Linked DNA regions of Homo sapiens: region 1 is linked to region 2. Evidence: fine-mapped expression QTL. Tissue or cell type: stomach. Region 2 holds a variant in brackets; the other region holds the start of a gene. All regions are shown on one strand. Distances are from middle to middle. Region 1 holds the start of OAF (out at first homolog). Region 2 holds the start of LOC124902773 (a long non-coding RNA gene).

What was found.
Region 1: it holds the start of OAF, and the variant in region 2 is fine-mapped to the expression of OAF in stomach (GTEx, PIP above 0.99). The same link has a PIP of 0.9 or more in atrial appendage, esophagus muscle, gastroesophageal junction, left ventricle, lung and pancreas.

Annotation. Positions count from the first base shown.
Region 1 is chr11:120,209,696-120,212,591 of GRCh38, reverse strand. OAF (out at first homolog) reads right to left here and starts at 1,560. Exons shown (of 4, transcript NM_178507.4): 1 at 1,082-1,560. The coding sequence starts at 1,312. RefSeq lists silencers at 1,243-1,352, 1,443-1,492, 1,673-1,932 and an enhancer at 2,266-2,807.
Region 2 is chr11:120,184,277-120,187,172 of GRCh38, reverse strand. It overlaps LOC124902773 (a long non-coding RNA gene), which reads left to right and starts at 1,575. Exons shown (of 2, transcript XR_007062923.1): 1 at 1,575-1,923. LOC105369530 (a long non-coding RNA gene) reads right to left here and starts at 980. Exons shown (of 3, transcript XR_948101.2): 1 at 1-980. The variant T/A (reference allele first, on the strand shown) is at 1,465.

The DNA of each region.
Region 1 (2,896 bases), 25 kb before region 2:
GGCCCCGGGCTCCCCCAGCTATCTAATCGGCTTCACCCCTGCACTCCCCCAGGGACAGAGCCTCACAGGGCCTCTCTTTAGCTGGGGGAAGGAGACAGAACGCTCCTTTTGAATACCTAAGACTTACCCACCCTCTTTTCCTCCAGCTTTCCTGCTGCTGGGTCACTGTTAGTCACTCACCATCCAGGCCCATTTCCTGATAATCCCCCAGCCCCCTGGGTGCAAGGCCCTTCTTATTCCCTCCAACACAGACACACACACACCAAGAGCGGGCTGGTCTCTAACTCCCAAACCGTAATCTGGGACACACACCCACACACCCACACCCACCCACCCACCCACCCACCGGGCTGGTCTCTAACTCCCTAACCCTAATCTGGGCCAAAATAGGGGGGTTGGCTCGCTTCTCTGCCAGGCAGAGTGAAGGGCAGCACTTCTCCCAGAGGGAGGGGGCCTCAGCTGGGGTCTCTCTCCAGGATCCTCCTGCTGCAAGCGCCCCAGCCTTCCAGACCAAAGAGGAGACAGGGCTTCTCCCGGCTTGAGAGGGACCAGGGGCAACCAGCTCTCCCCAGAAAAGTGAAACAGAGGGAGAGGTGACAGAGGGACTCCAAAATGTCAGGGCTGGGAGGCCTCGCAGACCCCTCAGTGCCCTGTACAGGGGTGAGAAGCCAGGCCCATAGGAGGAAAGAGGCTTGCTTGCTCTAGATCACACAGGGAGAACCCACAGTGAGAGCCCACAGCGAGAACACTTCGCCTAGGACTTTCCCACTAGAGCACAGGGGAATGACTCCAAGAAGGGAGTCCAGTCGTTAGTAGGAGTTCTGGAGGAGGGTTAGCACCTGGGGGGCTCTGGGAGCGCTGGAGGAGGGAGTGAGAAAGGGAAGCAGAGGGGTTCTTTGGAGAGAATGAAGGGGTGGGCCCTGGGGAGTGGGCAAAGAGGTGTAGAGAAGAGCCCGGCGTGACCTTGGGCCAGCTGCGTCTCCCTCCTGGGCCCGTCTTTCCGTCTGCAGGCAAGAGAGCGCCTGGGATCCCGGGGGGCTCAGGCTTGAAGGTGCCACCCCGGCGAGTGAGGGCGCCTCACCTTCTTGAAGTCGGCGGTGAAGGAGACGAGGGTGCCGTCGGGCTTGCGCAGCTCGAGGCTGATGCTGTCCGCGTCGCTGTCCGCCTGCAGGCTCTCCTCGGTCACCTGGCCGTCCGGCAGCCGCACGCGGACCCGCAGCTCGGCCGGCGCACCCGTTCCCAGCAGCGGCGCGAGCAGCGGCAGCAGCAGCAGCAGCGCAGGGCGCGCCAGGGGTACCCCGGGAAGGCGCATCCCCGGGGGCCGCTGCCGTCCGCGGCCCCGGCGCGCCGCGTGGGGGCGGGGAGAGGCGCAGGCAAACTTCGCCCAAAGTTGGGGGCTAGTTCGGGGCGCCCGGGAGCCGCTCCGCCGGGGGCCTTGGCCGCGGGGTCGCCCGCGAGGTGGCGCGGACGCACGTGGGTAGCGCTCAGCAGGGCGCCCCCGGCGGCCCCGAGGCGGAGACGGCGCTGCCCCGGCCCGGCTCCGCGGCCCCGGGCTCCAGCGCTGCGAGCCTGTGTTTTGCACTTTTCATTCAATCCCACCCCCCGTCACTTCCTTCAGAAAACAGAAACCACCAGGACCCGCCTTAAAGAGACCGCGCACCTCGCGGCCCTTAAAGGGCCCGCGGCTGCTCTCCGCACTTCGGCGTTGGCCGGGCAGGGGGCGGGGAGAGGGGGCAGCGGCTCCGCGGCTTTGTGCGAGCGGCCTCCTCGACCTCCCTCCCGCCCGGCCGCGCGGAGTCAGCGACCCAGGCGGAGTCAGAAGTTTGCTCTCCCGGGGCAAATCCCTTCCTTCCAGCAGGGGCAGGACGGGTGACTCTTCCCCCGCCCTGCACCGCCACCCCCCCCCCCCGCTTTTTTTTTTTTGGCTTGCTTTTGTGCCACGTGGATGAAATAATCGGGCTTGGATTTTTAGGGGTTTTGTTTGGTCTTTCAGTTTCTCTGACAGCGAATTTCTAAAAAGCTTCTGCAAAATCAGACCTCGCTTTGCACTCTGCCTTTTCCCTGCCCCACACTGGGAGGGTGGATCGGGGGTTCTCGCCCAGCTTTGCCACGGCCAGGTGTTAGACCTTGATGGGTCAGGTCACCCACTGGGACGCGGCCCTCAGGTTTTGTGAGCCCCTGTGCCTCTTTCCTTTTCAGTCCTGCCTCCCGTGCTTCCCGCATTCACGGCCTTTCCTCAGTCCTGCCCACCACCGCAGACCCGGTTCTTTCTCTCTATTATAGACTATGAAAATCCAGGGAAATGTTGGATTCCAGGTCACTTGGGAGAATTTCCAGGGACTCGGGACGCTGGCGCTCCACGACAGTGGCTTTCCCACAAGCCACAAGGAAACATGCGTGCCCTGCGGTGCACCCCAACAATAAGAAGGGTGAAGACCAGGAGATCTGGATTGCTGCCTCCTCTGATTAGTTGTGGAATTTAGGCACGTTTTAAAAATTCTTTGGGCTTAAGTGTCCCCGTGTGTATCGTGGAAGCTGCTCAGACCTACACTGTCCTGCCAGTCCCAGGCAAGGGAAAAAGCCCCACGAAGATGCTCAAAACCAATTGTTCCCTGACTTCCATTTTCACTTCTGTTGGGACCTTGATTACTGATGGGTGAAAACTCCCTTCTCTGCAGCCTCCTTCCCTTCTAGGGCTTCCCCAGCACAGGGCCATGTGAACTGCAGGGTCCGGCTAGAATCGGCCTCTTGCTATCATCCAGGGGCCCTTCCCGCTACCCGCTCTCTGCTGCCTAGATTTAGGACTGAAGGGAATTTAAGAGACTACCAAGTCAGCCTTTTCCAAATTTGCCTTTCCTGAAGAATCACCTGGATGCTTGTTAGAAAATAGATTCCC
Region 2 (2,896 bases):
CAGGTCTAGAGGCCCACAGACACACACAGGCACCCTCCCGCTTCACCAGGGCACACCCTTGACCTGTCACCCACCAGTAACACCTACATACACCAGCAGACACGCAGGACAACGCATGCTGACTCGGCACACCCACATATAAACATGCAACCCACACAGAAGGTGTGATTCACCTCCAGCCACGTACAGAAACCCACTCCCAGCCAGTCGGGGCCCGCCACCTAACCTCAGGCGAGGACTACCCTCCCCTGGGAGACCTGGGGACTCCTGAGCCTGGGAATGTCCCTGTTCTTTCCCATTGCCTGCCCTGTCCCTGACCCTGGCTCCCCTCTCAACTCTACCATGTGCTGTCTCTGTCAGGCAGGCCAGGGAACCTGAGTTCCCCCAGTCCTGACCTGCCTCTTCCTTCCCTTCTGTTCCTGTACCCCACATCTTTCCAGAGGCCTAGAAAGCTCTAGGGCTAATTATCTCATGGCCCTCCCTGCTGCCAGGAACTCCTCTGCCCAGTGGCTGACACCCCTTCTGCCTCCCTCAATCCTTCAGGGCTGCTCTTGGATCTGAAGTCTCTTCTTCCTCAGCCCCAGGCCCCCCAGATTCCCACAAGGCTCCCTGATGGGGAAAGAAATGTACTCTTCAGGACAGATTGGGGAGGAGCAGGCAGATGAAGGGAGACAGGAAGAAGGGGAGAGAGAAAGTGGAAAGAAACAAAATGAACAGATATTTCCTAAGGCCTAGGAAGGAAGGAGGGGCAGATTGAGTGCAGCTGTAGGATGCCCAGGGTAGCAGGTGTCTGTGGGGAGCAGGGACAGAGCTGGGCCACCTCAGACCCCCTTGCTTTGCTGGGCACCCATTTTAAGGGCTTACTTGGCCCACATGAGGACAAGGCCTCTCTAGCAATTTATCCCAAACTCCTGATCTTCTCAGGCCAGACCGGGATTCTCCAGGGCTCTTGGAGTGGGGAGTTCTAGGCCTCCTCTTTAGCCCCCTCCATCCATAATTTCCAACCTCACAAGCCTTCCCAATCCCCCTTGGGGCTCTTCCTCTGGATAGGAGCCCAGTCTGCATGCAGCCCCTGCCTCCTCTCAGCCCTTCCCACCCCCCACTTCTTTCCAAGCTGGAACATCACAGCTATTCTCAGCTTTCTGTCCATATTCTGTGGACAATCATGGAATTTTTTAACCCAATCTTGGGTTAGGAACACCCTCCAAACTCTACTGGAAGCCTCAAAGCACTTTCCTTCATATTTATGAGATCTGAGGCAGGTTTCTTTAAGTCTTTGCAACTTGGTTTCCTCAATGTAACATGGAAACACCCAGCTACTAGCACGGCTGTGAGCTTGGTCTCTGCAGAGCACCCAGCCCAGGGCGTGATGTTTAGCAGGGGGCCCTTGATAAATTTAAATTCCCTTCTCCTTCCCCCACTTTTCCCTTTTACTTTGCTACACACTATTTAAGCCAGGAGAGA[T/A]CAAACTGACCCCATTGCCCTGGGACAAAGGAATGATGGCCTCAATTCAAGAGCAAAGTACAGGAGTTTTTGATTAACTCATAAACACTCCCGACTTCCAGCAGCCCAGCTGCTGTGGTGTGGGGTGGGGAAGGGAGGGGAGGGGAGGTTGTTGAGGGGACATGCAGGAAAGAGATTAGGAAATTCAGAACAGGAGGACACAAGGGCAGGGGAATGCTGAGGCCAAGGCCTTCTCCCACCACCTGCCTCCTGCGGGAGTGATTCCACAGTGCAGAGGGAGAGCCATTTGGAGGTCCGGCACCCGCTCTGCCCATGCCTATGCTTCAGGCTCTGTGAGAAGGCTGGACTCCTTCTGGAACTTCAGGACCTTGGATGCTCCCCTCCTCTGCTCCTGCCTCCCTTCCCCCAGCCCTGGGGTGTGTCAGATGTGTGTTTTCTCCTGGACTCAGCTGAAGCAAGGTCAGCCCAGCTTTCAAGGGGAGGAGCTTCCACACTCTAGGTCAGTGCTCCCGCGGACCAGGGACTTGACCAGAGAGCAGAGAGCATAGGGTGGGGTGTGGGGTGGGAGGACAGAGCACAGGGAGCCCTGGGCTCCCTCCAGAATCTCAGAGGTGCTCACATCCAGAGGGTCTCCCAGGAATCACGGAGCCCCCCCTCTGCCTCCATGCCAAAGGGATCCCAACTCATCCCAGGAAGAAGCCCAAATCTTTGTGCCATGGGGACCAAACATTCCACATGGTGGCTGTCCTCATGGTTTGCATGGTCATTCTGATTTCTAACCCGAATCTTTCCCGCATCGCTAATGGATCCTGTAGGTTCCAAGGAGTTAGTCATGATATCAAGTAAGCAGTTTGTTTCCCCTGAGGATGAGCCAAATTTTGGGAAGATTCTCAGCTGCCTGTCTCCACCCTCCTTCATCCAACTTACCACCCCGACCCTGTCCTCCTCCCCACCCGGACACGTGGGAAAATGCCCTGTTAGCCCTTCCAGTCATGTGAATGAGGCCACGATTCAAAGGCAGTGGGCAAGAAGGAGGCCACAGGGAGCAGCCAGAAAGAACCAGCCCTTTGTGCTAGACAGGGGTCCTTGGGGGATGAGTGCATTTTTGGCGTATTTAGAAATATTTATTTTTTATAATGAGCAGCAGAGGAGGAAAGGGGAGGGAGGGAGAGGCAGAGAGGCCAAGGCAGGACTTGGGAAAAGAGGCTGGAGCAGTGGTGAGGGCTGGGAAGGGAGGTTACAAGAGCGAAAGGAGAAACAGACAGGAGCCAAAGGGTAAGAAGTGGGGACAGAGAGGGAGAAGCAGGACGGTTCTGAAGACAGATGGAGATAGTGACGACACAGGTGCCTGCCACCATGCCCAGCTAATTTTTGTATTTTTAATAGAGACAGGGTTTCACCATGTTGGCCAGGCTGGTCTCAAAATCCTGAC